Regions from separate parts of the Homo sapiens genome. Here regions 2, 3 and 4 are each linked to region 1. Evidence: fine-mapped QTL for protein levels in blood plasma. A gene starts in region 1. Each other region holds a variant in brackets. All regions are shown on one strand. Distances are between the middles of the regions.

Evidence for each region. PIP is the posterior inclusion probability: the model's chance that the variant is causal. The UK Biobank Pharma Proteomics Project read protein levels with antibody pairs (Olink). The fine-mapping took linkage between variants from a reference panel, not from the people measured, so its PIPs are less certain.
Region 2: its variant is fine-mapped to the plasma level of the KEL protein (UK Biobank, PIP above 0.99).
Region 3: its variant is fine-mapped to the plasma level of the KEL protein (UK Biobank, PIP 0.95).
Region 4: its variant is fine-mapped to the plasma level of the KEL protein (UK Biobank, PIP 0.91).

What each region holds. Positions count from the first base shown.
Region 1 is chr7:142,958,645-142,966,916 of GRCh38, forward strand. It overlaps KEL (Kell metallo-endopeptidase (Kell blood group)), which reads right to left and starts at 3,719. Exons shown (of 19, transcript NM_000420.3): 1 at 3,560-3,719; 2 at 3,151-3,228; 3 at 2,716-2,857; 4 at 2,284-2,460. The coding sequence starts at 3,562. RefSeq lists a silencer at 3,483-3,678 and a cis regulatory region at 5,801-6,202.
Region 2 is chr7:143,962,322-143,970,593 of GRCh38, forward strand. It overlaps OR2F1 (olfactory receptor family 2 subfamily F member 1), which reads left to right. Exons shown (of 3, transcript NM_012369.3): 3 at 1-2,039. Among named protein-coding and RNA genes, the nearest start is that of OR2F1, 12 kb to the left of the region's middle. The variant T/C (reference allele first, on the strand shown) is at 4,245.
Region 3 is chr7:142,283,237-142,291,508 of GRCh38, forward strand. It overlaps the pseudogene PRSS3P3. Among named protein-coding and RNA genes, the nearest start is that of PRSS58, 29 kb to the left of the region's middle. The variant C/T (reference allele first, on the strand shown) is at 4,913.
Region 4 is chr7:142,241,455-142,249,726 of GRCh38, forward strand. It overlaps the pseudogene MOXD2P. Among named protein-coding and RNA genes, the nearest start is that of PRSS58, 12 kb to the right of the region's middle. RefSeq lists an enhancer at 4,090-5,289. The variant A/G (reference allele first, on the strand shown) is at 4,641.

The DNA of each region.
Region 1 (8,272 bases):
TTCTTTGCCACATTTTGAAATGGCCCTGCAAAGCTGTTCTTTGTGGAGGAAAATTTGCATCTGTAAAGCATCTCTATTAGCTATTAACATATCTCATTAACATAGCTAGATCTTTTGATTAACTAAGATCTGAATAGGAAACATTTGTCACCTATTGTCTCTAAGGGCAGCCACTATAAGACTTCAAAAGAACTTCGGTCTCCGCAATCTTTATCTTACCCTGAACATTCCCTTTCTATCTATCCCAGATCTTTAGACAAACTCAAGCAACTGTCAATCCGGAAATGTTTAAATTCACCTGTACCCTGGAAGCCACCCCCACCCCTTTGAGTTGTTCCACCTTTCTGGACCAAACCAATGTATTTCTTAAATGTATTTGATTGATGTCTCATGACTCTCTAAAATGTATAAAACCAAGCTGTGCCCCAGCCACCTTGGGCACATGTTCTCAGGATCTCCTGAGGACTGTATCATGGGCCATGGTCACTCATATTTGGCTCAAAATAAATCTTTTCAAATATTTTACAGAGTTTGACTCTTTTTGTCGGCAGGAGAATTAAAGGAGTGGCAACTGGTATAGAGGCAAAGAGGGAGGGTGGGAGACAGGGAGCTTACAGGAAAGAAAGACTCCCACAGAATATGGAAGGAGGGGGAGGAATAGAGATGAGGAAAATAAGAAAGATGAGAGGACTGCCCAATTTGGAATGGATCAACTTGATGAAATGATGAAAGCAGGGAAAGAGAATGAGGAGAAGAAGACAATATGGAAAATAAAAGAAATGTGGGGAAGAAACCAAGAAGGAAAAGACAGGGAAGAAAGGAGAAAGGTAGCAATAAGTGGGATATGGGCAAAGGAGAAAAGAGAGAAATGAAAGACAAAAGAAATGATTGAAGAAATTAGACAAATTCAGGGAACTAGAGAACTTTAAGGATTTGGAGAGAAGAAAACTCATAAGGAAAGGTTTAGCAAAGAGAAGAAACAGGGGAAGACTCTTCTAGTCCAGACTCCTCATCCATTGATCCCAGGAAACAAACACACTACAATAATCAAATGCAAGTCTCTCTGAATCATCCACCCTCTAATATCTAACACTCTTTTCACCCTCAGTCCCCCTGATATCTATTCATCCCATTGTAGGCAATATAATTTATCCTGAGCATATTTTTTCTTTTTATCTCTGTGCCTTCCCTGAAAGTATCCATTTACCCAAAGAGAGGCCCCCTCCCACTCTTTCCCCATCAAAAAAAGAGGGCAGAGGGGTGCATTTACTTTTCCCAGATTCTAATTGATAGTGTCAACACATTCTTTAGGTTCCCTTGCACTGGAAATGCATGTCTATCTTATATGTTCTTATTCCCAAATCCTCACCACCATCCACCAACTTCCTGGGACGCACTTCCAACCTCCTACTCAGTTTCAGCTCATCCTTCTGGTTTTCCTCTCAGTCCTGGCAGTTTTCCTCTCCAGCCTCCATCTGCAGGAACTTTACTTCCACTGCCAATTAACTCAGCTCTCCTCTTCTTCCAGCATATCCTTTGTACTTACCCACTTTTTCTCTTATGCACAGTGATGAAGCCCTCTCTCACTTCTCACCCCACCATCCTACCCCTTTCATTCCACCATCATCCATCATCTCCAATCATCCATCTCTAACATCCCACTTGTTCCAGGTCAACTTGCTTGCCATGGTTCAAGGTTTCAATGGAGAAGCAAGAAGCAAGAGATCATTGTGAGAGAGGGGAGCTCCGGCATGGTGAGAGGGAGAGGGTAATGTTGACAAGGAGTCATTGGGAGACTGAGGTTTTGGAGGTTAGAGAATGAGAGTGATGGACAAAAGAATTGAAATGCAGGAGATGCTGAAGAGATGCTTGTGGAGGAAAACACCATGCATAGGATAGAAACTGAACATTTGGAGGAAGCAACAAAGATGGAGCTTGCTAAAAGGGACAAGTTGGAGAGAATGGAGTAATTATGGATACATGGAGAAGCAAAGAAGATGGAAATTAGATAAAGAAAAAAATGCAGAAAGGGACCAAGAGAAACGGAAGAAGGGTACCCAAGGCAAGGCAACAGGAAACAGTGAGAGATGAGCAAACCCAGGCAGCTCCCGCCATCCTGCCTCTTTTACTCCCCCATCATCTCCAATCATCCACCCGTATAATCCCACCTGGGATGGTGCAAATCAGTTGTTCCACAACTACACAGGGTTTGGAGCAGTCATGGTCATTTTAGGCACAGAGTCACCCACTTGCACAGAGCATCTTCCACCCTGCTTTCCTCACCCAGTATTCTCCGAAGTCGGTTTTTGTTCTTTGTGGCAAGCTCCTGAAAAGAATTATTGGTCTCTTTGGCCCTTCCACAGGCAAAGCTGAAGAAGTCGGTGCAGGGGGCCACACTTGTGTTCCCAGAGGCCAGGTAATGATCCCGGAGATCCAAACACACAGATGTCTCACAGGGGCCTGTGGGGAAAAGCTCAGAGCTGGGAAAGAAGAGGCAAAAAGACAAGGGCTCCCCCAAGGGGCTAGGCAAAGAACATCAGGTGAGTAACTAAGTGGGGAGCTGATGAAAAAGAAATGGTTAGGATGCAGGGAGGAAGAAGAACCATGGGGACCCCAAGGGTCAGGGTGGGCAGAAGCCCCAGGAGCAGGGACTGGGCCTGGGCCCCAGGGCTGGGGGAGGGCTGACTAGGTTAGGGGGTCTGGGATCTTGCTTACGAGGGCCACAGTTCTGGAAGTTGTAGAACAAAAGCACAGAAAAACAAAGGAGCAGGCCCAAAATCAGGATAGCTGTCAGCACCCGCCTGGCCACTGCCCATGGCCTGCTCCCTTCCACGGGCAGCCTCTCTTCTGGAGTGCTCTGTGGGAGGAACCAAGAGGTGAAAGATACAAGATGGGGGTTGAGAGACAGGGATGGGAAGAAGAGGAGAGAGAATGAATCTGTTGGTGCTACAGTCCCTTTATACAGAAATAATTATCCCAATTCTTCCTAAACCCAGCCCTACTTTAACTCCTGGGAGATGAGAAAACAAGGAATGTCAACTGTTTTGGGTGAGGATGAAGCAGACAGTTAGTAGATGAGTGTTTGTGGGATTTTAGAGCCGAGAGTGACAACATCAGTGTATTCCAGACCCAGGAGAGGAGGCCACTTACCTCTTGGCTCCAGAGAGTTCCCATTCCACCTGCCTGGCTGCGTTCCCTCGGCTCTTCCTCACTTTGGTCCCCACCTTCCTGAAGTGAGTGGAGGGAGAAGGAGGAGAGAGAAGCTGGTTCAGGAAATGGTGCATTGAAGAGAGTTTTATCAGGCCATTTTGATACCCTCGCTGCCTGCCCTGCCCCCACACACATATTTTTATCTCGGAGCAGTGTTCCCAGATGGGCTTCAGAACGAACCTGTCCCCTGAATGTGCCATTTCTCGATCCCTCTCCCATTACCTCCCTCTCTCCCCACCTTTCTACTCTGTAAGCCTTACATTCCCTCCCCTCCAGTGGGGGCAGGACTTTTGCACACAGCCACCCTCACCCCTCCCCGCTAAGCCTCTGACTCCAAAAGGGGACTTACCATCTGTCTATCTTCTGTGGCTCCAGAATCCTTCCTGGTTCCACTCTAGGAGCTGATTCGGAGGACTGGGGTCCAGGAAACACCCCCCGCCCCAGTTCCTTGATCCTGGAGAAGGGGCACTTCTGCTGCTCTTTCGCCTTGTCCCCAGACACACAGGACTGGCCTCTGGGTGGAGCCTGCTTATCAGTGGGGGGCACCCAGGCTTCTCCTCCCCCTTTATCTCAGCTTCTCAGGGGAGAAGAGGGAGGGAGTCTTCACTCCCCAAGCAATCTTGCCCTTGGTCTGCTCCTTTTGTCTTGCACTGTGACTCTGCCCATGAAGTTCCTTTATTTCTAAAATATTCTTCCTTCTCTCATTTCTTCTGTATTAAAAAAAATATGAGGCACAGTAAAATTTTAAAGAGTTTATTTAAGTAAGAAGCAATTCATGAATTGGGGAGCACCAGACCGACAAAGGTTTAGTGTTGCGATGACAAAATGTCAGAGGCAAGCATTTATTGGGAAGTTATAGAAGCAAAATGAAACATTATTTGCTTAGTTTGCAGTTACATAATTGCATTTTTTAGGTAACTTTTTGGAAAGTCCCTAGTCACATAATCATATGTTAGTTGGCTGCTTATCATTGGCTGGGGTTAAGTTTTATTTGTTGTAAGCATTTATCAGAAATTGACCCAAGTTAAGTTTAATTTATGTTTGTAGTTTTAGCAAGAATATGGCTATTTTTAAGGTCTTTGGCTTTGTTTGCCTGGGAATTTTTCAGGCCCAGTCTCCATTTTAATTTTGTTTTCACACCTCTCTGATTGGCTTTTCTGGGATTCATCAATTCCCAGGTCAAATGCCACCTTTCCCAGGAGGCCTCCCAGCTCCATGCCCATTCACACTGTTCCCAAGCATGCTTAATTGTTTCTCTCGGTGTTTCATAGCTCTGCTGGCTGCTGGCAAAGTCATGCATTCAAAAGATCACCCAGCTAGGAGACCCTAATCTGCTAATTATTAGCTCTGTGACAATAAACAAGCCACTTAAACTCTGAGGCAGGTAAGCAAGTTTTGTCATCTGGAAAATGAGGGTAATACTTGCCTATGCCTACCTCATAGGATCTCATGCCTTCTACAAAAGAATAAGGCTTTACTGAGCCCCTCTTTCTTTCATTCTGCTTTCTGTTACACTGATAGCTTGCCTCTTCATCTCCTTAGTGATTGAAAACTATGTCATAGCATGTACAGTGTCTGGTTTTCATTCCTGCCCACCCAAGATGCTTTCTAAATGTTAATAGAAATGAATTGCATTCCAAGCCAGAAATCCTCTTTCTCACATCATATTAAGCCCTTACCTGTGGTCTGAGAGAGGCAAGCACATTTCTGGGGGAAGGTGTTTCAACTCTGTCCTTGTTTCCTCATCCCAGGAAAAAAATAATGTAATTTATTAGGTTAGTCTTGCAAATGATCCCCTGGCGATATTTCCAGATTCCATCAGCACTGTGCTAGGGCCATGGTGCACTTGCCAGGATGAGGGTGGGTGTGGAGAAGTGGAGTAAAGCCATTGTGCCCCCTGGGGCCAGCTGGTCGGGTATCATGAAAGTCATAAAGAAAAGTCAGAACTTCATACATTAGAAAAGAAAGCATTGGGAAAAATAAGGCTTTTGAGGAAAGGTGTGGCAAGATACAATAATATCTAAGAAACGCCGGTGTGGTATTGGGGATCTGGACTGATTGGATAAAAGACAAGAAACAGAGTGGTTAGTTTGGTGTTGCAGGAGTGATGAAGGGAGGGCCCGGCCCAAGGGGATGGCAGAGGGGAGGGAAGTGCGTAGAAAGAAAAATTGTATGGAATAAAGTCATGGCAATGGATTGAATGGAGGAGGGGTTTATGATAGAGCCACAGAGGAGCTCCAAGTTGCATTTCTGCATGACTAGGGGAATAGTGATGCCAGCGAACAATGGAATTTTGATTAAGGGGGGAGTAGGAATCAGAGTGAGGGGAAAAAGCTGACTCAGGATTCTAGAGGTGTTTGGTCTGTGTGGGTACACCCTGATGGTGCCTCCTCTTCAAACTTCCCTTCCACAGAAAGTCCAATACTCTCCCCATGGGCTTTTAGCTTCCTTCACACATATTCCCTTCCTCACTCCTTTTCTATCAATCAAAGCCCCTGAGCTGATGTTTCCCTAGGAAGATGATAATGGAGACCACTTAGATTTGATAAGAGAAAGTTGAAGATGGAGTGTGCTCTGTGACATTTGCCTATGGACAGCCACCACAGCCTGGACTTAGGTTCTCTCCCTGTCAGAGAAGCTGAGCCAGCCACAGGGATAGGGCAGCACAGCTGCCAGGTCCACCATTCCTACTCAGCCTCCTCCTGAAGGCCAAGCAACCTCCATCCTGGGAGCTGTCTCAGGAGCAGGACTTCTTCTTATCACCCATATCCTACTCCATGGTGAGTCATCACCAGCACAGCCATACCCAGTCACGGGAGTGCAGCAGCCTTCACTCAGATCTAAGCCCCGAGAAGAGGTGTGTTAACAGCTGTGGCACATGGACCACATTTATCTTTTCGGATGCTGCCTCCTTCTTGCCCTCAATTGTCCTGTCTGTTTATTTTAATTCCAGGAGGTTTTGTTTCATGCCATAATAGTATCAAAATAAAATATTGGTAATAATAAAAATAACCACTTTTTACGGAGCACCTTCTTTGTGCTAGGAATGTGCTAAATGTTTTGCTTGTACATTTTCCTTCAGTCTTCACAGCAACTTTCTGAGGGAAATAACAGCTTTTATTTTCCCCATTTTATAGATGAGCGGTCAGAGAGATATGAAAGTACAGTGAACTTACTCAAAGTTACAAAATTAATAATTAGCAGAACCGAGAATTGAACCAAAGCCTTAACCATTGAGCCTCTCAGTCACTAAGTATCTGTTTTTTGGAAGTTTCTTCATAGTAAACATCTTCCTTCATCTAAACTCTTCTTTTTAAACTATGTTTCACTGCTTGGCCTTGTGAGGTGACAGTTTTGGGGACTAGTATTCTCAAACTCTCTAACATCCAGTTTCATCATCTGAAGATCATGGCCTTTGCCACAATGTTCTATCCATAATCAGCTGCCATCTACAGTGGATGTGGTATCAAAATCAAGGACAGGACATTAATCTGTCTATTGTGACACTCTCAAGTGTGCACATGACTGGCAATTTGCTTCTAAGATCACTCGATTGCAGTGATAGCCACTAAGAAGCTACCCCCTAAAGAACAATAAACCCAGTTCTGAGTGAACCGAAGTAAGCCTTGACATCACAAGCAATGTTGAGGACTTTGCCCAGAAGATGATGGAGAAACAGATCATGGGGGGCAGGTTTTGGGGTGCACTGATTGCTCTTTCAAAGGAAGCAATACTTGAGAATTGGGGAGCTCCTTTGGGAAAGAGTAGCTTGTAAGTTCAGTATACCACAAAGTGGCTTTTGAAATAATTTAAGTGATAAGTAGATGGACCTCTTTCAATATGTGTGTGTGTGTGTGTGTGTGTGTGTGTGTGTATATATATAAATATATATTTATATTATATATATTATATATATATTTATATTTATATTATATATATTATATATATATTTATATTATATATATATTATATATATTATATATGTAATACATATTATACATATAATATATATAATATATATATATATTTTTTTGAGACTGAGTCTCGCCCTGTCAGCAGGCTGGAGTGCAGTGGCGTGATCTTGGCTCACTGCAACCTCCGCCTCCTGGGTTCAAGCGGTTCTCCTGCCTCAGCCTCCCGAGTAGCTGGGACTGCAGGTGCACGCCACCATGTCCAGCTAATTTTTGTATTTTTAGTAGAGACGGGGTTTCACCATGTTTGCTAGGATGGTCTCGATCTCTTGGCCTTGGCCTCCCAAAGTGTTGGGATTACAGGCATGAGCCACTGCACCTGGTCCAATATTTTCATTTTTATATACATTTTTCTTTTATAGATATATGACTCTAAGAAGACTAAAATACATAGCCTCTGTATTTTTATTAAATCAACTAAAATATACTAAACAAATAATAGCTGTATTGGTACTTGAATATGTCAAAAACTTGAAGAAAATGCTCAGAAGTCTGGAGTTTTAATTATGTATGGGTAGAAACAGCTCAAAAGGAGGATCTTTGTCCTTTTTTATTTTCTTTTTGGTATTTTCTACATGCCACCACATTTTTCTTCCTAATCCAACAGGTTTTGAAGATAGTACTCTGAATACAGAGACTCTAATAAGTTGTGTCAATTCAACATATGTTTCCTCAAGAAAATTTACATAAGTTCTTGCTAAAACCAAGGTCTTAGTCAACTACTACCATAATAATGCTTTGTTACAAACCACCCAAAACTCAATGGTTAGAGGAACAAGCATTTATTCTTTTTTTTTTTTTTTTTTTTTTTTTGAGACAGAGTTTTGCTGTTGTTGCCCAGGCTGGAGTGCAATGGTGCAATCTCGGCTTACCACAACCTCCGCCTCCCAGGTTCAAGCGATTCTCCTGCCTCAGCCTCCCGAGTAGCTGGGATTACAGGCATGTGTCATCACACCTGGCTAATTTTGTATTTTTAGTAGAGACGGGGTTTCTCCATGTTGGTCAGGCTGGTCTCGAACTGCTGACCTCAGGTGATCCGCCCGCCTCGGCCTCCCAAAGTGTTGGGATTACAGGCATGAGCCACCGTGCCC
Region 2 (8,272 bases), 1.0 Mb after region 1:
ATGCTGGCAAATTAAATTTTTATTTTAAGTATTATCAGTGGAGTATCTATTCTGTGTCAGTGTCAATAAATGGTTGTTGCACACAATAGTCAATATGATACCATCATAACAAGGATAATCTCACATAGTAGGGAGGACAGATGATGAAACAATGATAATGCATTGTGGTAAGTGTTACAGTGAAGGGGAGCCCACTGGAAATGATTGCAGAAGGCTTCCTATAAAAGGACCCTTGGATTGAGACCAGAAATGTAAGAACAAGTTATCCAGAAGACAAGAAACCCAAAAAAGAAACAACCTGTACAAAGTTGTAGAGATGTGAGCAAGCATGAAAGTCCAAAAAATGTTGGAAGTTCAATTTCAGGGCAGAGAAGAGTGAGAGAGTAGTGAGGACGAAGCAGACGGGTTAGACACGGTCAGATCCTGGAAGGCGTCGAATGTCTAAGTATCTTTTAACTTTATTCTAATAGAAAACAATAGTCCGTCAAAAATTTTTAGAAGGAGTATAGATTGAAAACAATTACATTTTAAAAGTATCACTCTGGCAAATGAGATAGTGGAAGAAAAGATTAGAGGCAAGATGACCAGCCTGTCTGCTGGGTCTGCTTCAGTAATACTCTTGAGACATTCGAGACATCTGAATTAAGTTAGATGCAATTGGAAGGAGACAAGTAAAGTGGTGTCATTTAAAAGTGATGTCAGCTAAAACACTTCATCTCCCAGATTGGAAATGCCATCTGAATATCATTCCTCTTCTAAAATGTGAGGATGCTGTCTGAACATTCTGTAAATTGTGTAGTAAACTGGAAAATTCACCATCGTGAACATGCTCTATATGAAATGGTATGGGAAAGAGATAAGAAGAAAGTAATCAAAAATACAAACATACACATAATACATCAAGGAGGAAAATACGTGAAGATGCTATATCTTCATTTCTGCCAGCGGTCGTGTGGTCACGGTGTTCGTGACATTTCTCCATCAACCATCACACAATCCTTTGCCTTCAAACAACTCCTAAGCATGTTGGGGTTCTTCCTGGAAGGGTTATCCAAGTCTTGATATCTCAGGAAGCAGAAATGCTGAGAGTGGGCATTAGGTATGTAGAAATAGACTACTATAGTCTCATATTCTGTATTAGTCAGGTTTCTTTAGAGAGACAAGACTAATAGGATAGATGAATATATGAAAAGGAGTTTATTAAGGAGTATTGACTCACACGATCAAAAGGTAAAGTACCACAATAGGCCTTCTGTAAGCTGAGGAGCACAGAAGCCAGTTGGAGTTCCAAAACCTCAAAAGTAGGGAAGCCAACAGTGCAGCCCTCAGTCTGTGGCCAAAGGCCCGAGAGCCCCTGGTCAACCACTGGTGTAGGTCCAAGAGTCCGAAAGCTGAAGAAATTGGAGTGGAGTCTGATGTTTAAGGTCAGGAAGCATCCAGCACAGGAGAAAGATAGAGGCCAGAAGACTCAGGCAATCTAGTCCTTCCATGTTCCTCTGCCTGCTTTTATCCTAGCCATGCTGGCAGCTGATTAGATGGTGCCTACCCAGATTGAGGATGGGCCTGCCTCTCCTAGTCCACTGACTCAGATGTTAATCTCCTTTGGCATCACCTCCATAGACACACCCAGGAACAATACTTTGTAACCTTCAATCCAATCAAGTTGATGGTCAATATTAACCATCATATATTCCATCTATTAAATTTCAATTTTTATCTTTTTTATTTGATAGAGTTTTTAATTTCAAGGCTGCACTTTCTCGGTAACTTTAATCTTCATAAATTAAATTAGTTGGATCACCTTAAGACTACACACACTTCTAATTCATAGCTGCTTGTGAAGGACATTCCCAATAGAAGGCATGAACATTGTCTTGATACAGGAATACAAAATAAGATGCTATTCTAAACTTTATTGTTTATTTAGCCATTAAATAGAAAAAATTTAAAAAGACACTGAAAAGTATTTGAAAATAAAATATTTTTCATTAGTTAATAACCATAAAAACACCACTGAAGGTTTTCCTTAAAAATCTAATACATATAAAAATTACAGTTTGTTCAAATAAGAATCTAAATAAGACCCATATATTCCAATTGTCTACTATGCCTCTGAGAATTCTTTTACTCTATCAATTAATAAATTTATAGTAAATTAGTAACCTATAAATTCTACTTTTTTACTGTTGGAATTATTTTTTAAATAAAACTGTATCATTTGTTCCTGTTGGATTTCTCATACAGTCTAGATTTTTTGATGACATCCCTATAGTGTAATTTTACATGTTATTTTATTTCTGTATCTCCTGTTTAATCCAGAGGTTTCATCAGGTTTATTTTTTTTTATGACAATGGTATTTCATAGATGGTCACATGTACTTCTAGCAAGAAGCACACAATGTTTGTAGCAAGAAACACAATGTTCCTTTTTTTCTGGGGATTATTACAACTATTATATTGCATAGGTCAGGAGTTTTCAAAAGTGCCAAATATCTATTGACATTTTGGGCTGAATAATTATTTGTTATGGGGGCTATTTTGTGCATGGTCAACATTCCTAACATCTACCTACTAGATGGCCCTAGTACTCCCTCCCAACTAGGCAATGCCAATATTGCCCCTGATAGAGAAGTACTGACCTAGCTCTATTAATTTTTTAGGGGTTTCAAGGTGGTGAGAGTCTATCATCCTTTTCTCTTTATTATCTAAAATACATTTATAGAGAGAAACTTCCACCTCATCACTCTTTCATCCTCCTGAGGTATAGTTGGTATGAGAAAGGCAGAATAAATTTTTTAATTTTTCCCCTTTCGTTGCCACTTTTTAATACAACAAATGAGGTGAGGTTTTTTTCATTATAGTTATGAACTCACTGATGTGCATTTATTTGATGTGTCTTAATCCACAGCAGTTATTGTCTTTATTGATGTTCAAACTGTCCCATATTTGGTGAACGTGAGCCTATTTTAGTTTCTTCTTCCTGTTGTAAAAGTAGGAATTCCACAAGTTCCACCTTATCTTACAAAGTCCCACAAACTTTGTGACTCAAAACATTACAAAATTATTATCTTAACATTACAAAGGTCAGAGTCTGATACGGGTTCTACTAGGGCAAAATCAAGCTGTTGACAGAGCTGCGTTTCTCCCTGGAGACTCTGGGGAACATTCCATTTCTTGCTTTCTGCTTTCTGAGGTGACTTCCACTCCTTGGTTCCTGGCTCCTCCTTCCACAAGGCCAACAGCACAGCAAACCTTTCTGTGACTCTGATCCTCCACTCCATTCTGTCCTCCATATGATGACAGAGAAATGATCCTCTGTCATCACATATCTTTCTTCTGACCCTGATCCTCTTGCCTTGTTCTTTACAAGAAACTTGTGATTACATTAGGGCCACCCAGATGGTCCAGGACAATACCCCCATTTAAAAATCCTTCATTTAAATGCATCTGCAAGGCCCTTTTGTCATGTACAATAGCATATTCACAGGATATTCCATATTCACAGGATATTCCATATTCACACAGGAACCTTAGTGTGCTACTATTTGCTACCCCTCATTTTTGTACTTTTATTTTCAAAGATTTTACATTAACATAAGCTATGAATACAAATAATTGCTATGCTCTTTCAGCTTTTGCTGTGCAGAAGCTCTTTAGTTTAATTAGGTCAATTATCCTGTAGTCTGTTAAATATTTAAAAGTGAATTTTTTTTTTACTTTGTTATTCTTTTTTTTTATTATACTTTAAGTTTTAGGGTACATGTGCACAATGTGCAGGTTAGTTACATATGTATACATGTGCCATGCTGGTGTGCTGCACCCATTAACTCATCATTTAGCATTAGGTATATCCCCTAATGCTATCCCTCCCCCCTCCTCCCACCCCACAACAGTCCCCAGAGTGTGATGTTCCCCTTCCTGTGTCCATGTGTTCTCATTGTTCAATTCCCACCTATGAGTGAGAACATGCGGTGTTTGGTTTTTTGTCCTTGCGATAGTTTACGGAGAATGATGATTTCCGATTTCATCCATGTCTCTACAAAGGACATGAACTCATCATTTTTTATGGCTGCATAGTATTCCATGGTGTATATGTGCCACATTTCCTTAATCCAGTCTATCATTGTTGGACATTTGGGTTGGTTCTAAGTCTTTGCTATTGTGAATAGTGCCTCAATAAACATACGTGTGCATGTGTCTTTATAGCAGCATGATTTATAGTCCTTTGGATATATACCCAGTAA[T/C]GGGATGGCTGGGTCAAATGGTATTTCAGTTCTAGATCCCTGAGGAATTGCCACACTGACTTCCACAATGGTTGAACTAGTTTACAGTCCCACCAACAGTGTAAAAGTGTTCCTATTTCTCCATATCCTCTCCAGTACCTGTTGCTGACACCTTTATCTTAGAAAATAAATTAGGCTACATCTCCTTCTTAGAACAAAATCCAAACTCTTCCTGTGCGGAGCCTGTTATGGTCCAGCTGCTCTTCCCTCCCCATTTGCACCTGCATCCTGTCTCCCTTCTTTCACTGCATGTGTTCATCCATCAAGGGTTGGGAGAAAACAGATAAATCTCTATAAAAAGAGAATGTATTTTTCTACAAGTCATATGTATTGATGGAGAAAATGATTCTAGACCTACAAGATATTTGTGTGTGTGAAATCTTGGACTTAATCTAATTTATTTATACATATTGCTTTTCAATGGAAATTTTGAATTCTATAGATTACTGTCATCAATGACTCGGCTAAAAATTGTGTAAATTTTCAAAAATAAAGCTGTTTTGATCCCCTACTTTTCAAAAGAAGAAAACCTGCTTTCGCAGTGGGCAAAAAGGGCAGTGCTGTCTTGGGAAGTTAGACTGTAAGCTTCTTGAGAGCAAGGAGGATGCTCCTTGTCGTCACAGTGCCTAACAATGCTGTTAAATTCATGCTCATTGTATAATTTATTGATGGACATGTTCTTTGCTATTTTAAGAGTTGCCTTTTATGAAGTATGTAAAGATCATACATGTTAGAATTTAGGATATTAGAAAATAAGGCTTTTTAAAATCTCCAGTGCAGAGATAATTGGTTAATAATACTCCTCAGTATATGGAATAACACGAGGGCCCTCTTACTAATTTTTGAAAATTTATTACAGTCATATATTGCTTAACAACAGAGACATGCTAGGAGAAATGTGTCATTAGGCGATTTTGTCATTAGGCAAACACCATAGAGTGTAGGTACACAAACCTAGATGGTGTAGTCTACTACACACCTAGGCTAGATGGTATAGCCTGTTCTCCTAGTTTACAAACCTGTACAGCATGATAGTGTACTGAATACCGTAGGCAATTTTAACACAGTGGTAAATATTTGTGTTTCCAAATATATCTAAACATAGAAAAGATAATGTGTTGCTATGACGTTCCAATAGCTGTGAAGTCACTAGGCAATAAGAACTTTTCAGCTCCATTATAATTTTATGGGACCACCATAGTATATGAGGTCAGTCATTGAGCAAAACATTGTTATGCTGCATATTGCATTAATTCTCTTTTATCTTATTCGTAATGTCCATTTCTTCCTGGTCTTTTGGCCAACTATTCTAATTTGTTTAATGCAATAAAATATGTTTGAGAGTGCATTTATGCATTTTTAAAAAAATGCATTATGTTGTTATCTGTTTGATTCTATGTATTCATTTTCTCCATTCAACACTATATTTTTTGGGTTTTTTTTTTTTGTTGTTGTTGTTGTTGTTTGTTTGTTTGAGATGGAGTCTCACTCTATTGCCCAGGCTGGAGTGCAGTGGCGTGATCTCAGCTCACTGCAACCTCTGCCTCCCGGGTTCAAGCAATTCTCCCCCTCAACCTCCTGAGTAGCTGGGACTACAGGCGCATGCTGCCTTGCCCGGCTAATTTTTTGTATTTTACTAGAGACGGGGTTTCACCGTGTTGCCCAGGCTGGTTGTGAACTCCTGAGCTCAGACAATCCTCCCGCCTCAGCCTCCCAAAGTGCTGGGATTACAGGTGTGAGCCACTGCGCCCAGCCTCAACACTATAAAGATTCATACATATTGCTAGTCTACAATTTCTAATTGTTCACAATGAGCAATTATGAATCCATGGTGTTCACAATATTCTAGCTTTCATTCCCGGTAGCTAAATATCCAATTCCCCAGCACCTTGGGATTCATATCATGACACAGGCTCACTTAAAGACCTGTGTGAAAATTTCTTTGGTGTATTTACAGAGGAACCGAGTTGCTAGGTCATAGTGATCCCCAGAATGGCTTTATAACTCTATACTCCTACTTCAGTGCACAATCTTTCCTTATGTACAACTTCAACAACACTTGGCATGTTTTGATTTTTTTTTTAGCTAAAAGATAAAATTGTTTTATGTTCCATTACTCTGAAAAGTAATCAGACACGGAGTTTTTTTCTCATGTTTTTCTCATGCTGAGTTCCTGATTCGCACCCATTCTCACTCTGTATCATTCTGTTCATGCCTTCCTTGTCTCAGTTCATGGTAACTTCGTCATTGCAGTGATGAGTCCATTCACCACTCCTTTTTCTCATACGGGACTCAAATCTGCAAAAATATCCTGTTGCCCCTACCTTCAAAATATGTGCGGAATATGATCACTTCTCACCTCTGCAGTCACTCCCTGGTGTGAAACACCACCATCTCCCACTTGGGTTACTTCAGTAGAACAAACTTCTCTGCTTCACTCTTGTGTCCCAGCAGTCAGAGGGAACCCTTTAAAATATAACTCAGCTTTGGGAGGCCGAGGCGGGTGGATCACGAGGTCAGGAGATCGAGACCATTCTGGCTAACATGGTGAAACCCCGTCTCTACTAAAAAATACAAAAAATTAGCCGGGCGTGGTGGCGGTGCCTGTAGTCCCAGCTACTTGGGAGGCTAAGGCAGGAAAATGGCGTGAACCTAGGAGGCGGAGCTTGCAGTGAGCCAAGATCCCGGCACTGCACTCCAGCCTGGGCGACAGAGTGATGCTCCGTCTCAAAAAAAAAAAAAATATATATATATATATATATGTGTGTGTGTGTGTGTGTGTGTGTGTGTACATATATACGTGTATATATACACGTATATATATATACGTATATATATACACGTATATATATATACGTATATATATACACGTATATATATATACGTATATATATGTATATATGTATATGAGTATGTATATGTGTGTGTGTGTGTGTGTGTGTGTGTGTGTGTATGTATATATATATATATATATATATATATATATATATATATATATATATATATATATAACTCAGGCCATGTCATTACCCTGCTCACACCCTGCATTTACTAAAAATAAAATCCAAAGTCTTTCTGTGGAGATGGGCCTGTTTTCTATCTAGACTCTTTTCCTGGGATGCTCTTTCCTTAGATAGCCACTTCCTCACCTCTGTCAATTTTTCATTCAACCATCATCTCTTCAAGGAGATTTACATGACTGACCTATTTGTTACAACAAACTTCCTTCCTGACCCATACTCCCACTCCTTCTCCCCTTGATTTATTTTCCAAAGAACTTATCTTTTCTAGCATTCTTTGCAATGTATGCATTTTTAAATATAGGTTTCCCTTCACTGCCCCATATATAAGCCCCTTGAAGGCAGGGCTCTTTGTTTTTTAAACTAGTATATGCCAAATATCTAAAATAGTGCCTGTCTTATAGAAGGCACAAAGTAAATATTTTCTGAGCGAGTGAAGCAAACTGTTAGCTATTTGGGTTTTTATTGTTGTACACTGCATGTTCATTTTCTTTGCCCATTTTTCCTTTGGGTTTTTTGCCATTTCTTTACTGATGGATATATTATAGGTGTTAGCCCTGTTGTGTCATACCTACTGCAAATACATACTTCTAATCTGCAATCCCTCTGTTCACTTTATCCATAGAGTCCTTTGTTGAACAGAAGGTCTTCATTTTGAGGCAATCAAATGCATCACTTTTTTATTCTGTGATTTGTGCTTTGGAAGTTTGTTTTTCTAAAAAAATAAAATCCTGCATGTAGGTCACAAAATACTATATTTTTTATTTAATTAGGTTTTTAGTTTTACCTACTATAATATTTCTTTAGTATATCTGACATTCACTTTTAAATATTTGTTAAATATAGATCCAGTGTTATGTTTTCCAGTGTTCCATTTATTAGACAATCAATTCTTTACTCATTCATTTGTAGTAATTTTAGTGTGTATTAAGTTTACCTATGTCTGGGTCTGTCTTTGAACTCTCTATT
Region 3 (8,272 bases), 680 kb before region 1:
AACTGTGAAAGTTCCCCTTACGAATGAAGACAAAACTAACTTTCCAACAGTTCTTCAGAACATATGGCCTTATATTTTCTGTTTGGAAAACAGTGTACTCTACTGCTATCAGATCTTTGAGCCAGAAGCTGGCCTTGGAGGAAACCTGTGGCCTTTCACTGCATGGGTCCCTCCAAGTCTAATAAGAGTCTCAGAGGCAGAGCTGGCAAGGGCTAAGAACACTGCAAATAGAAATGGACCACAAAAATAGGAAAGTCATTTAAAAAATGAAGTTGGATTATGCACACGGACGTGTCCTTAAAAATAAACTCTGTTAAGTAATGAAGGCTTTGCATGGGGACTGTGTACATAAAATCACAGTAGACTGTTGAGGTCATGTTAGAGCGCTTATATAACTCTCGGGTAAGTTTTGATGAAGGGATTTGTGCCTTGCAGTGAGAAGATGAGATCAGTTAGTAAAGGAGAAAATGAATTGATTTATTCTGTAGAAGTAGGGAGCTTGTTAAAAAAATGGAGAAACTAAGAAATTATTGAAAACTATGATTTCTTCAAGATGTCTGGAAATCCTATAGTTTAGATGGCATACAAATAGAAAGTGGTTAGACTGAGCTAGTCAGAATAAATGAGTATCTCTAGGACTAAGACTTTTGTATTTGTGCCCCATCAACAAATTGACATTTTAAATTGACTTTTAAAAGTGAGACTAAATAATATGAAGATAGAAAATATTTTATTTTTTAAAGACATTTTAAAATTTGATTTCAAAACTAAAGTCACTTTCCATGAAAGATAAATAGTGGTGTTACAGCAAAATAATAAATTAAATAAGATTTATAGGGGAAAAGAGATAATTTATTTATAGAGATAAATTTAGCAATTTATCTTATTAAGACAAATGTTCTTATATAAATATTCTTGAAGCCCTCCCTACTCCTAAGCTTCCATTTGTGAATTTTTTAAAGACTTTATTAGTCAGATATTCTGTTCCTTGCAACTTCCTAAGAGATGTGTTCACATTTATACCTTTTTTTTTTTAACTTAAACGCTTATTTTATTAGGGTGAATTTATAAAAGCTAAGTTGTTGTTTAAAATGGCATATGACATATACAGTTTAATAAAAATTCACAAATTGTAAAGCATTAAACAAAATAAGAGACTGAAACTGGCAAGAATAAGTACTAAACAAACACTATTGGATAACATAAAGGATTAATAATTTGTTTGCCTTTTTCTTTTCTCTGGACCTGCCCTGATCTCTCATCTTCTGTGTATCTCACACTTCCTGTTAAGTCTTGGAACCTTCCCTCTATCTGGGGTGGGAAGCTGAATAGGTAGGTATTGATGGTGGTAATTAAGTGGAGCAGAAAAGTATTTCAGAGGGAACAGGGAAAACTTAATCTCATTTTGTTCAAGGCGGAAGCCCAAGATGTTTTAGTTGGGGTAGATATAAGGCTACCTATTTACACAAAGAGAGCTATATATGAAATTAATTTAGATTATACACAAACATAAAAACAATTCAATGAGAACAAAGGAAATAAGACAGAAAAGGTTAGTTGTGATCAAATATTTGAGAATGTTGAATGCAAGGCTAAGAAATTTTGGCTGCATTTTAGGGGCAGTGATAAGGCAGTATTAAGAGCTCAGCTTTTCTCTACAAACATGCCATCCATACTTACAAAAGGATAGAAAATTGCTAATGGGCACGTATACCTTTCAGTACTCTCCTCCTCTGAAATATTTATTATGGACTGCATGTTTGTGCCCCACTTCCCAAATTCGTATATTAAAAATTTAACCTCCAATGGGATGGTGTTGAGGTGGAGTCTTTGGGAGGTAATTAGGTTTAGATAAGGTCTAGAGGGTGGCCCCCATGATGGGATTAATGTACCAATTTGTAAGAAGAGAAAAAGGACTAGAACTGGCTCTCTTGGCCATGAGTGGATGCAACTAGAAGATGGCCATTAGGAAACGTGGAAGCTATCCTCACCAGACACCAGACTACCTGGTGTCTTGATCTTGGACTTCACAGGCTCCACTGCAAGAAATAAGTGTCTGTTGTGCAAGCCACCCAGTCTGCGATATTTTTGTTATAGCTGACTGAGCTGCCTAAGACAGTACCCTTCCTTCACCTTATCACTGAACCACAAATAAACTCCCATTTCCAACTGCCTCCACCTGTACCGTTCTGTTTTCTGATCCCAGTGTGTCTTTTCCTTTGTCTCATTCCAGATAACCATGAGAGTCACGTGCAGGGTCTTCTGCTCCAAGCCCTCCTTTCAATGCCACACAGAACAATGAAGATTTGAGGGACGACTCGTGGAAGAACTAAAGCCAGAGTCTGTGATGCACTCTTCAAACAGGACTGAAGAGAATAGATAATATATCTGTAGCCATTTATGACCTCAAGGCACAATATCTATTTTCTGCAAACTTATCTGAATTTGTACCTTTTTGTTTCTGTTTGTAGTTTAAATTAGTACATCATGTGGGCTGGGATTTGGGGGAACTTGTGGTGAAAAAGGGACACAGATTGTCTCCAGAGACCAGGCCTGCTATAGCAAATTTCTAGTTGGAAAACAAGAAAGATCTTGGAGGAAAGGAATATACAGGTAGGTGAAACCTTGGAAAACACAGGAAACCTGTGAATTTTAAATATTTCTGCATCTACAGGTTTCTGCTACCTAGCTTCCCAGAGTTTCAGATAGATTGAAGAAAAAGGAAAGAAAGACCATTCTGTTCTATCAGCAGCAATCCACTGGGAATGCCCACTTGGGCTTTATCTTAGCTTTACTGTGAATCTTTTGAATGATTTTGGGCAATTAAGTTTAATTTTCTGCATTTTAGTGTCATTATATCTTGTAAGGTATGAATGCATGATCTACCATAAAAGTTCATGTTTTCAATTAATTGATTTTTATTTTTAGAGATAGGGACTTGTGTCTCCTAGGCTGAAGTGCAGTGGCACAATCAAAGCTCACTGCAGCCTCAAACTCCTGGGCTCAAGTAATCTTCTCACCTTAGTCTTTCAAGTAGCTGGAACTACAGGCATGCACCACCATGCCCAGATAATTTTTTAATTTTTTGTAGAGGCAGTGTTGTCCAGGCTGATCTCTTAACTGTTGCCCAGGCTGATCTCAAAATCCTGACCTCAAGTGATCCTCTCAACCTGGCTTCTCAAGGAGTTTGGATTACAGGCATGAGCCACCACACCTGGCCCCAGAAATGCAAGTTAAAATACATACTGTGGCCAAATCTTAAAACAAAATTTATCTGACATATTTTTAGAGTTCTTGATTTTGTAAAAAAACAAAATGTGGTGGTAACAGTGACCTCTAAGCTTGTTCACCTTTTTATTCTCAATGTATCACATAGAGTTTGGCATATAGTTGGTGATCAGTAAACTTATATTGATTAGGTTGAATTAATGACTAAATAACTGCATTAGTCCATTCTCACACTGCTATAAAGACATGCCTGCAACTGAGTAATTTATAAAGAAAAGAAGTTTAGGCAGCTCATGATTCTGCAGGCTGTACAGGCTTCTGCTTCTTGGGAGGCCTCAGGAAACTTATAATCATGGTAGAAGGGAAAGCAAACACATCTTCATGTGGATGGCAGGATTAGGGGGGTGCAACCCACTTGAAACAAGCTGGTTTTGGGAGAACTCTATCACAAGAACAGCAAGGGGGAAGCCTGCCCCCACAATTCAATCACCTCCCACCAGGCCCCACCTCCAATACTGGGAATTACAATTCGACATGAGACTTGGGTGGGGACACACAGCCAAACCACATCAATAACCTTTCACATTTTCTCAATATAATAGTTTGGCCCTATGTCCACCTTCTTAACAGCTAGTTTCAAGAGAAAGTTAATCAATGCCGACAGGGACCATTCTTGAAAAGACGTGGTACAAGACAGTATATTTTTATTTAGATACTGTGTTTTGGCATAGAAAGAAGGTAAAGTTGATGAATAGGATATGGAACATGAAGAGATAAAGGTGTTTAGTTGGCAGCAATGGTCTGCTGAATCCATTTCACGTAGTTGCAAACTTTAGTGTAGACTCCAGGTTTGTTCTTCTGAGGACAACCATAGCCCCAGGAGACAATGCCCTGGAGTTCTCCGTTGCAGACCACAGGAACACCAGAGTCACCCTGGGCAAAAAGGAAGGGATATTCAGAGATCTTATTTATGCCCAGATGGGAGAATGGGCCGTAAGATGTTCTTCCATTGTGCTGGAGCCATTGTCCCACACTGCTGATCCAGCATGAAGCACTTTCTCTTCCTCTTGAAACCCTCCAACCCTCAATCTACTTACTATATCAGTAGTTAGTCTTCCTTATACCTTATTTGAGCCCCTTCTCTTTCCTTGGTAGGCCAAGTGGGCCAAGAGGAGGTTTCATGCTGCTTAACTAGCTCTGCTCCTTCCACTAGAGTTCCTTTCCACAGTTTACCTCCTCAGAAGGGCACTTAGAAATACTATTTGCACACCATCTTCTGTGCATCTTTTAACTCTTAAACCTAGACATTAATACAATAAAAATAAAATATTTAATTTGTCCCAAGGCTATCCCTCACCTCTCACAATCAGTTATAGGGACAGTTTTACAATCTTCTGTGTTTCTGAAAAGGGGAATTATGGTGGAGAAGACTAAGAATAAGCTGGAATTGAGAAGCAGTACAAAGAAACTAACCTGGCAAGAGTCCTTTCAACCCTCCAGGAATCCCAGACATATCATGTTTGTAGTAATCTTGCCTGGGTAGGCTGTGCGGCAAGCAGTGTTAGAGAGAATGGGAGCCTTCAGACACTGCAGGAGATCAGGGTAGTTGGCCGTGGAGTGGAAGAGTGAAAAATGCAAGATTACTCATGAGGTTTCCAAAATTTTCTTTCTCAATACATCTCCC[C/T]TCTTCCCCAATACTCTCACTTTTTCTTTCAATTAGCCAACGGCTTCTCATTTGAGAGAGCAATACTTTCTTTTCTAGAAGCTTTCCCAAATAGTTCTAATCAATGAATTGTTCCAATTCATTCCAATTGAATGCTCCAAGCAAGACCAAATCCCTGAGTCTTTGTTTTGTTTACCTCCTCAGTTTATAGTTCTCTGCCCATCACTAATCACACTTCAGTTAAATACCCTGATATCTTCATAGTACTTCATTATTATGTCTTCTGCATGGTTCCAGCAAAGGAATCTTCTTCATTTCAATTATTAATAGTATATTTCTGAGATTCCATGTATCCAAAAACTATGCTCTGGGAACTTAACCTTAAGTGAGTTTGGACTAGCTGACTTTCCACATGTCTTTCAGCTCTAAAATTGTCACACTTGGTACTTCTGTTTCAGGCGACACTAAAGCCACTGCTCAGGGTGTTGTCCCAGCCAGAGATGAGGCACTGAGTACCAGCCGCTGCACAGGATCTTGGCAGAGAGATGGTGGCCACTTGAGAGTTGATGGTGGCGACTGAGCTCAGCTTAATCAGCATGATGTCATTATCAATGGTGGCTGAGTTATACTTGGGGTGGCAAATAATCTTGGCTGCATTTATGAATTGTTCATTGCCTTCATAGACCTTAATGTTGTATTCTCCAAGATGCACATGGATTTGGCTGGATTAAAAGATATAAGAGGTTCCTAAGTATCTAGCTTGAGTTATTTCCACTCCTCCTGACCCCCCATTTATGAGCATAAACACAGACACCATCCTTTTCAAGCAATCGGTCATACAGTAATTGTGCACTTAAGGTAGCATTCTGCACCACCACATGGTACAGGTTAGAGTTTTCCTTAGAGAAGTGTCACTGCAAGTGCAGACTCACTGCCCGCCATCTTGTTAGAATAGTAAGGAATGGGAATGAGAACTCAAGGACTTGAATAAAACAGTTGGAGATAAAAAGGAAGTTGGTGGAGATTGATCAGCATTTGCCATTTCTCTCTGGTTGGGATCACCAGTTATCACAGGGAATGAAGCAGGAGTCAGAGAAATGGCAGAATGTTAAGGGAACAGAATGAATCATGCATATTTTTAATGTTGCACTGTAAATTCTCTGTATTTTATTACTTCCATATACAGTTTATACTGGCTGAGCTACAGTAATTAGCACTATGTACTGATTCATGTCATAAGCTATTTCTAGGGATAGTTCATCACTCACTATTTCCCTTCCATATCTTGAATACCATCATTTGGGAAGACATCAGGGAACCCTGAAGGGTACCTCTCCATGCAAACCCCCCTTTATACATCAGATAATGCCTGAGAAAATAAGAAGTCTCTGGAGGTCTGAATGCCTCACCCTCAAGCACAACTCTGCAGTTTACTCTGGATTGTGTTTTGTCAGGGATAGAGGATTAATTAATCTTAGTGCATAAGAAAATGAGTATCAATGAATTACGACTTATAGCAGTGAGCCGTGGACACCTCCCATTTGTTATTGATGAGGGAGCCACCACAGAAGTGATAGCCAGCATTCAGGGACCCTGATAGGGGACAGCATTCGTCTGACAGGTGTAGCCCCCCAACGATCTTGTCATCATCATCACTAGTGGGGAAAGTGGCTGACAGAGGAAAGTTGGGAACTATCAGTTAAACAGATTCATCTTAAAGTTTCTACAATATCATGAAAAGTTTTCTCAGATTTACCAAAAGAGCAGAACGTTCTCTTGTCTCACATAATCAGGAAATGGTGGCTTTAAGGTAATTTGGGGGGGAAATTTATTATCCCATACCTTTAAATTGTACCCCACTTATAACATTATAACTATCTATTTTTTAATTTATGCTTTAACTTTGATAAATGCATTCTTTTTTTAATATATGTACTATTCAGACACACACACACACGAGCGCGCGCACACACACACTCAAAGATCAGAAACTCTTGACACAGTAAATGTCCTGAATATCACTTCCTGAAGACACAAGGAAACTTTTTTCACAGAACTCTGCTCCGCAGCCATACAATTAGGTGTAATGCTTTTCAGTAGTCATGCTGATGTTGGTTTGTGGTCGTTGGTAGGATGTTGGTATGGGAGAGAGAGCCCCATACAGTAACAGAAAGGAAGCTTTAAAAAGGCACCTGAGGCTGGTTGCGGTGGCTTATGCCTGTAATCCCAGCACTTTGGGAGGCCGAGGCAGGCGGATCACGAGGTCAGGAGATCGAGACCATCCTGGCTAACACGGTGAAACCCCGTCTCTACTAAAAATACAAAAAATTAGCTGGGCGTGGTGGCGGGCGCCTGTAGTCCCAGCTACTCGGGAGGCTGAGGCGGAGCATGGCATGAACCTGGGAGGCGGAGCTTGCAGTGAGCCAAGATGGCACCACTGCACTCCGGCCTGGGCGACAGGGCGAGACTCTGTCTCATAAAAAAACAAAAAAAAACTAAGGCACCTGAGAATTTTCTCGTCTGGAAGGAAATTAGAGATTTATATTTTTGCTCTCCTAATTTCTCTTCTTGATTCCAGTCTAGAATTTTTATTAAAATCATTTTACAGAGCATTATAGGATGACCCTCTTCAGCCTTTCCTCTTATCCCAATTATCTTTCCAACACTTACGAATTTATTCAGCTTTTAAAGTCTAGCCCACTTTATATCTTGTAGCTCCAAAAGTTTGTGATTATATTTTATGAGCCCCATTGTTCAGATATTTTTAATAGTTTTAGGAAAGAAGTTAGCAGGTGTGTAGACAGATGAATTGAATTTATACCTGCCTAACTTGAGAAAATTTAGTATTAAGTTTTAGTCTTATAAAATTTAGTAGTATAAAAGGAAAACTCATCATTTTTCTATTATATTCATGATGAAATGACATGTTACTTTACACCAGAGAGATATCCATGGCAAAAATATCGTAAAACACAGCCCATAGCTTTTATTCATGAGAAAGAAAATTGCTTTTCCCTTTGGCTTTATATCACTAGCCCTTTAGTGTGGAGAAGGTGCAGGCTCTGACACCTGCAGCCTCTTTAAGAGCACACGATTAGTTTCAATTATTAACTCCAAATTCTTGGAAAGGTCAGGATAAGCGCCTCCTTAATCTGGGCTATCTTTTCCTTCTCTCTCCTTCTTCCTTAATATTACCCAGAAGTTGAGAGCAAGTCCTGTGTCTTTATATCTTCTACCCTGATCACTTTTGCTCACTGTGAACTTCCTCCAACAAGTGAAATTTAATTATCCACAAACATATGTATTTTGCACTGTTGTTTCAATATTTTAAGCTTCTTGAATACAGAGACCAGATTCAACATTCATTGTTGTCTTCCAGAG
Region 4 (8,272 bases), 720 kb before region 1:
ATTCCATTCCTTTAGATATCTTTTGCCAACCAAACTTCTTCATGTGCACCCCACGCTCTCCTTATATATGGCTTTCTCAGTTTTTTCCTTCTCCAGAATTCCCCATCTCTATGTGTCTAAAGAAGGACTCATTCACCTACGTCACATGTTCAGTTCACTGTAGTAGGATCTCATGATTCTTTCCTGTGAATTTCCCTAGTGGGTTATTCCCGTTCTTCTTGTATGGTATATATCACTTACTAACTTGTGATATAATCATTTGTAGGGCGGTATTTTTTCCTCAGTTGCCTGCAACACCTTTTGAATCCCACAAGCACTGAACCACTCCTGATGCACAAAACGGGGGATTTTCTTGTGATCATAGAAACAATAGCCAACTTTAATTGAGAATCTACTACAAGTCAGGCAATGATCTAGGTGTTTTGCATGTGTTAACCAACTCCCACAACAATCTTGTGAGGTAGAAAGTAGTATTAATCTTATGTGAATTGGGAAACTGAGATACAAAAAAGTCAAATAACTTGTCTAAAGTTAGAAATGTACTAAATGATTGTGCTGATATTCAAACCCAGGCAATGAGGCCCCAGAATCTCTGCTCTTAGTCGCTATAGCATACTATATTTCCATGGTCTTGGTGGGTTATTGGCAGATAATGTGAGAAATCCCTGTTCCTATCTTAGATGCATGGGGTGTGAGAACATGAAAAGCCCCGTGTGGATGTGTGATGCCATTGGAGGAAGGAAGGGGCTTCAGTGAAATCACAGGGGTCACTGGGTAGCCAAAGCCATGAGTGGGCTCTCCACTGGGGCTATGGTCATGGTGACCATGGTGGGGTGAGAGGTCACTTACAAATGTCATGGAGTCACGGTCCAGTGTCTGGTAGTGACATTCTACCAGCAATTCATCTCCCTGTTCAGAGTGAAACATGAAGGCTGAGAGTAAGACACAGAGGGACTGGTACAGCTTGAGAACTTTCTTGGTTGTCAGTAATGAGGTATGATGCTGCTGCCCCCAACTCTGCCTGGCCTCCCTCAGACTCTCACCGGCTTGATCTCCACTCTAGAGGGCAAATCTCGAGTCTCCTGCAGGTTGAAGTCATAGGAATCGTCTTTACAGATTTTTCGAAGTTGTGTTCCATTCCTAGAGGAAGAGAAGTCGGGAATTCAGAAATAAAGAGAAGATGAAATACAGAGGGGTCTGCCAATAAAGATGTAGCATGCGGGTGGGGTCATTCTGTGAGTAGATTATCCATAAAAATAAACAAAAAACTTCATCTTCCACAGTCTTATTTCAGTTATTTCTACTCTAAAGATAGTTCTACCTCTTCCTTTTTCTCAACCGGACATAATCGTATGCTACAGAATAAATCACTATTCTTAAAATTCATTCCCACCTGCAGAAGGGAGAGCTTCAAGGTCTTCCCTCACCTGTATTGCACTGCTTGCAGAGCCCGTCCAGCCAAGTGGGTGTGCAGCAGGTAGCCATACACCTGTATGTCAGGCATAGGAGCTCCATTCATCTGTAACAGGGAAGAGGTGCACCCGATTTGTTAAGGACTGTGTTCTTGACCTGCTGCTTGATTTCCCCCCCTTGGTATTTGACACTTTCCTCTGATGACTGACATTTACCACTGTAATTCTTATTGAACCTTTCTGACCCTTCTTCCTTCTGCACTTCCCTTGTTCTCAAAGCCCTGACTCCTTCCCTTCCTTGCAAAACTCATGTTAGTGAATCTCCTGAGCACCAGGCTGTAATTATTCTCCAAGTCTGGGGTTCAGGCTGTGTGGGCTTGTGGATCTGACCAGATCTGGGATGGGGGGTAAGGAGAGTGTGTTTCCTCCTCAGGAAGGGTGCGCCTCCCAGCTCCACCTCCTCAAACTTCTCCGTCCTACACAGCCCATAGGACATGAAGGACTCAGCGCCCGGGGGGATGAAGTGGATGGGAAACGTGAAGAAGCCCAGCTGGAGGACATCCGTGTCGTATTTGCGCAGCTGAGAAGTGTAGTACACGCAAATCCCCGAGGAATCATACACACCTGGTGCAGAGAGGAACAGTCAATCACAGGAGGCAGGAGAGTGGGTCACAATGTGGAGAGAAAGAGGCTCAGGAAAGCTGGGGTGGGGCTTTGACAACAGGGAGTCAGCACACATCCCACAATGCGTTCCCAATACCGAAAAAAACAGCCAGCCCCACCAGCTTCCCTTCCTTAAATCCTCTGGATGCTCACCAGGAAGGTTGTTAAAATTGCTGTAATGAATCTCCAGTCGGATCCACTGAAGGTCCAAGGGGGTCCCAATAGAGACTCCTACGTCATCTGGAAACTGGTAGCTCTGTTGGAAGGAGTTAGATTTGGCAGCAAGAAGGGCTGGGAACCAGCCATAGGGATTCAGGGCTCCTGGCCTTGTTTTCTAATTGTCATCCCAGACTTCCCCTATCCCCTGGTCTTCCACCAGCCCAGTGATCTCATTACCCAACCACATGCACCCGCTTAGCCATGTGTTTACCCCATCACGGGACTCACTGTGCCCCCGACAGCCCAGCCCACGATGACCTGTGAGCAAAGGGAGAAGGCAGGGTCGGCCCCATAGCAGTCGCTGATGCCTGTGGGGAGAACGCTAGCATTGCCGCAGGCGTACACCAGGATGTGATGCACCGTTGTCTCATTGTGGTAGACCAACTTAGGCTCAAACTGGGCAGAAAAGGAGAGCAGAGCATGATCAAGACCTTCTACATCAAATCCATATTATCTTCCTTCCTGTCAAAACTATACCCATTTCCCTCTTCTCTCTGTTTCTCTCTCTCCCTTTTTCTCTGTTTTTGTTCCCCAAGCTACCATTTTCCCACCCACTCAGTTTGACTCTCCTCTCAACTCCCCTCTCCTTTAAGCCCCTTCTGGAGAGCAGACATGAAATCTAGCCAGGGACATTCTGCCTTCCCTTAGTAACCTCCTCAGTTCACTGTATCTGAGCATGTAGCCATGCCTTTTCAAATTATCTGTCTAAAGAAAGAAAGTCTCCACATTTGCCACATATTGTGAGATCATACCTTTATTTATTTGATCAAAATTGAAATCACTCAAATATGAAATTGGGTTACCAAGTTTGAGTTCATTCTAGCTAGACTTCTTCAACCTCCTGACAGCCCCTGGCCATATCCTCTCCCTGCCTTTACCTCCTCTTGGGCTAAGAGAGCACAATTCTGGGGCCAGGTTGAGGCTCATACTTTGTTCTTTGCAAACAATTATTAATTCTTAACCTTCATCAACATGTCTGTTGCATTGTGGGGCTTAAATAAAATAGCGCTGGGAGTTACATTTCTGGGCTCAGGAAATGATGTAGCCGCGACCTCTACCAAGCCCTGCCTGTCCCCCTGTTCTTGCAACTACTTCCTTCTTGCTTCCTCCAAGAAATTTTCCAGACCTCATCCTCCAGGGTTGACCACACCCCCTGCTCTGCTCCAGCACCCTTCCCTGCCTTGACAATGTCCCCCATCTGGTCCACCATACCTTGTAAATGTGATGCTTCTCGCTCACAATAGGGAGAGGAAGAAAGGTGCAGGCATACGTGGTGTCATCCTCTGGAATGAGGAACTGTGGAAGGGTGCACAGAAGCTGAGCCAGATGACAGTGAGGCTCTGAAAAAGTAGGGCAAGGGCCAGGCCAGGGAAGGGGGTTCACATTAGGGTCAGATTGGCAGTCCTTAGGAGACAGAGAAGAGTCAGAGTAATCTCCACCCAAGGGATGTACTGAATACTGGGGGCAAGAGAAGGGATCTGGGTTGAGTGGGGTGAGGAGAAGGGAGCTGGAGGCTGCTGGGTGGGATGAAGGTGTCTTACATTAGTGATCTCCAAGTCATGGATGATGGTGTCCTCAGGGACATCCAGATCGTCAGGGTGGACGACTTGTAGCAGAAAGATGGACTTGACAAAAGTACGCTCCCGATACAGCTTCAGAGTGTCATCCAGGCCATAGGTGGCCAGCACCCTCACGGTGTTGCTCTGCGGGGTGCCATAAGCATTGAGGAGCTGCCACCCCTGAGCAGCACTCTGCATATCCCTGCACCCAAGGACCTACACAAGGCACTTGCTCATGTCTACATGGTGGAATGGAAGGAGCTTCACACTGGGAGTGAGAACTAGTTAAGTTCTATTTCTGCCTCCGAGGCTCACTTGCTGGTGATCTTGAGCAAGTCACACTCCCTCTCGCATGCCCTCTCTAAGCTTGTGTCCACATCTGTAAAATGAAAGGACTGAATTAAACTCTTATATCCTAACACTCTAAAGGTCAGCGAAACTGGGCAGAATTCTTCAAAAGGAAAACCCTGGGGCAGGTGGGCAGGAGGTGAATCAGTGGGAGGTCACCCTGCGGAAGGCTTGTGGATTTCAGCAGGTGGCACAATTGGAGCATTTCCTGGGAAGGCTGAGAGGAATAGAAGTCCTGGGAATGATGACTAGCTGCCTGACTGGGGGCAACTACCTCTCCAGAAGGAAAACCTGCTTGTGATTAAATGCTTTTCTCTGCTCTCTATTTTACCGTAATATCCAGGTCATGAGGGTCGCAGGAGCGGAAGGGCCTGGAAAAGTGCATGGTGGTGTAGACAGCATCTTCCGTCAGCCGCAGCAGCTCAGCATCCTGGCTCCC[A/G]TCCTCCTTCAGAGTGTCTTCGTCCACCAAGTGCTGATCCTTGGGTCCAGTGAAGGTCAAGAAGTAAGAACTAGGAGCTTCAAATGTCATGCTTTGGAGCAGTAGCTGTTCCTTTAGCTCCCCTAGGATACTACAGTAGCAGAGCCCAGGTGTTCTTTATTATGTAGTTTTTCTCCTTGGGCAAAGCATGGCATGAAGAACATGGCAGAGCACACTTTTATGGATAATGGAGTTTCACCACCTGTCCTTGCTTTACTTCTCCCATTTCAAATCTCATGTCCATAAAGTCTAATATTCCTGCATCCCTAATACTTGAAGTCTCACATATTATCTGAAGTATGTATGACATTCATTCTCTCATGTGGCTCTTCATGTAACTATTTCTCAGACAGCTTTGAATTTTCCCTAGTGACCTGCATTTAGTGGGCTTTAGCAAGTAAGTGGTGCAAGACTATCTCACAATCTAATGGTTTCATTCTCTCAGCAGTCTTAGAGACTTGCAGTCTGGAAGACATAGATTTCAAACTCTACAATGGACCATTTCTGGAGGGACACACCAGCATTCAGCTGGCATTCTGGGAGTGTGTTTAGATATCCTCGGGGAATGTGAATCCTTTCTGGACAGAAACCATCCTCAACCCAACAAAGACCCTCATCCTTGGAAGCAAGTCACCCTCACACTTACCGAGAAATAGACATTGCCATTAGGCAAGACTCCTCCAACAACCAGATCACTTCCCACGTTGGTGTAGCGATTTGTGACACCGAAGCCCACCCAGCCAGCTGTACGGACCTGGAGCTCAAAACTGATGATTTCAGCCTCAAGGTCAAAGTCCCAACGCAGGAAAATGACATTAGAAGGATCTAGGAACCTGGAATAGCGCAGGCGAGATGTGGGGCCAAGGCGGTTGCTTTGTAAGGGGACTCCCAGGGCCAAAAGTGGAAAAAGCCTGAAGAGAAGGTCATGGGCCATGGCTCCTGGGACCTGGAGCATCTCCCTTGCAGATGAACATTCGAGAGCTTCAGAGTTTTATGTCCTACCTGGGCCAGGCACCATGCCATGGGGGAGGGCCAGGCTGGGGCACTTCTGATCTGATTATCCTCCGGGTTCAGAGCGATGCCCCTTACATAACTCTGGAGGTGAGAGGTGCCCAGAGAGGATACAGGGCAGGTTGCTTTCACTCTGAAGCAGGGGCCTGGCAGAAAATTCTTAGGATTGAATCATTTAGACTTTCCACCCTGACCCCATGCCAGCGTCCTGCCAGTGGGGACCCTGCAGAATCAAGAAAGTTTAGTTTCTTTTTCTCCCCCTCCCTTCCTGCCCACCTCTTCCATCTTCTATCCTGGATGTCTTTACAGGACATTCTGCCTCTGGACTATGCCCCCACCCCACTTTTTGTGGGCATTTCCCATTTTGTCTATGTATAGAACTTCGGTACTAGCAAGGATGTGGGACTGCTTGTAAACCTAGTCTTTCAATTTCCCAGTGCAGTGCAGGAAGGAGGGAAGTAGCTGGCAGGGACCGGAGGGAAGGCTGCAATTTCCATCTGCTAGAGGAGGCTTTGCTACTAATCCCTAGAAGGACACTGAGAGGAGGGATATCAGCTTCTCAGATGGTTGAGTCGGGCAGCTTTGGTTTTCTGCACACTCCTAGGGAGGAGCAGGAAGAGAGAGGAGGTGAGGGGAAGAAGATGAGAAATAAACATGAGTTTGCCTTTGGGATGCTTTGTGCTTTCCCTTCCGGCCATCAATTACCTTTCAGAGAAATTAATTTAATGGCTGCATGGCAGGCTGAGCTTGCCCGATTGAGCACATTAGTATTATGCAAACAATGGAAGCAACACAGAAGGAAGGTTAGAATATTAGAACACCAGAATAGAAAAGAACTTTAGAGCCACTTAGTTTTCCAAAAATTTCTATCTCCTTAATTTCTAGATGATGAAATGGGAGCTCCAAAGGGTAACAAGAGTGGTGCTTGATGCCCCGTTGAGTCAATGGTGGGTCATGGTCCCTGACCATAATTTCCTTAGGTCACAGACACCCTACAGGTACCAGACCCCTGCCATGCATTTCCACATGGCTTGTCCTGGTGGAAGAATTTAGTGACATTTGTTGGCTGCTTCTTAGGGAAGAAACCAAAGTCTGACTCTAACTCCACAGTATTTTCCCCCTGGTGACTGACACAGCTGACCTAGAGCTAGAAGTCACCTCATCTGACCCCTGGTTGCTGGCTCTCCACTTGACAATGGAGAGGACATGGACCCTGAGGGCCTCTCCCACACAGACTGGGCCTCACCTCTCCACAGAGGAATTCAGCTCAGGAGTAGATGTACAGATGCCGGCACGATCTGCTTACAGCTTCTCATTGCAGGCATAGTCTTTTTTTTTTTTTTTTTTTGGCTACTGAGCTCATCAAAGCTGGTGAGGACCCAGCTAAGGTTGTTTGCTGCTGCTGTGAGCACTTGAGTAGTAATTGGGGTGTGGTGAGGGAGAAAACAAATGCCTCAAGGGGGCAGCCACAGCCCCTAACTCTAGGCCTGACAGAGAAGGCAGGGAGCTCGGCAGCCATCTGGAAGCAAGAGGCTTATCTTGGCCCAGGACCAGAGCTGAGCCAAGAGAAGAGGAGAGGTCGGAGCCTGGGAGGCACTGACCTTGAGGAGCAGTAACACCAGAGAGAGAGAGATAACAGGTGCGTGGAGACATTCTGATCCCAATCTCACTTAAGGATTAAGGGAGGGGGCAGTAGGGAGACAGGATAGCCAGTCTTGTAAATTGAGACGGGCCCAGGATCCCTTATCCTGCAATCTGTCCTGCTGGACAGAGCACTGTCCTCAGCACAGAGGCAAGGTCCTCAATAAAGAGCTGGGAGCAGTGACTGCAGACTCAGAGGGTCTCTTCTCCTGGATCCTTATCTGGCTTCCACCCCAGGAAGCCAGGCCATTGCTACACCTGTGTGAGGCTCTCTAGGGAGATGGGGCTGGGGCTGGCCCTGCTTCCCTTCTGCATTTATCAAGTGCCTGTGACAGGGAAGACACCACAAGAGGGTCACCGACCTGAGGGCAGTGCAGTCCCAGGTCTTGAAATAGTGAAGTTCAGTTTCTAAACCCCTCTGTGCCTCCTTCTTGCTCTCTGTAAAATGCTGCGGTTGGAGAGATGGTGGATACAGGGCCTTTTAAGTTGAATTTCCCAGATGATTGGTTTCCAAGCTTTCTGAAAAATGAGGCCCCTTATCAATGTTGAAAAATAGGTAAATCTCATTCTTTTTTATGACTGAACTTAAAGAATGTGATTGGATTGTTTGTAACCCAAAGTATAAAGGCTTTTTTTTTTTTTTCTGAGACAAGGTCTCACTCTGTCACCTAGGCTGGATTGCAGTGGCATAATCACAGCTCACTGCAGCCTTGACCTCCCAGGCTCAGGCGACCTTCCTGCCTCAGCCTCCTGAATAGCTGGGATTATAGGTGTGCATCACTATGCCTAGTTAATTTTTGTATTTTTTGTAGAGACGGGGCTTCATCATGTTGCCCAAATGCTTGATGTGCTTATTTCACATTCCATGCCTGTATCAAAACATCTCATGTACCCCATACATGTATATACCTACTATGTATGCATAAAAATTTTTTTAAATA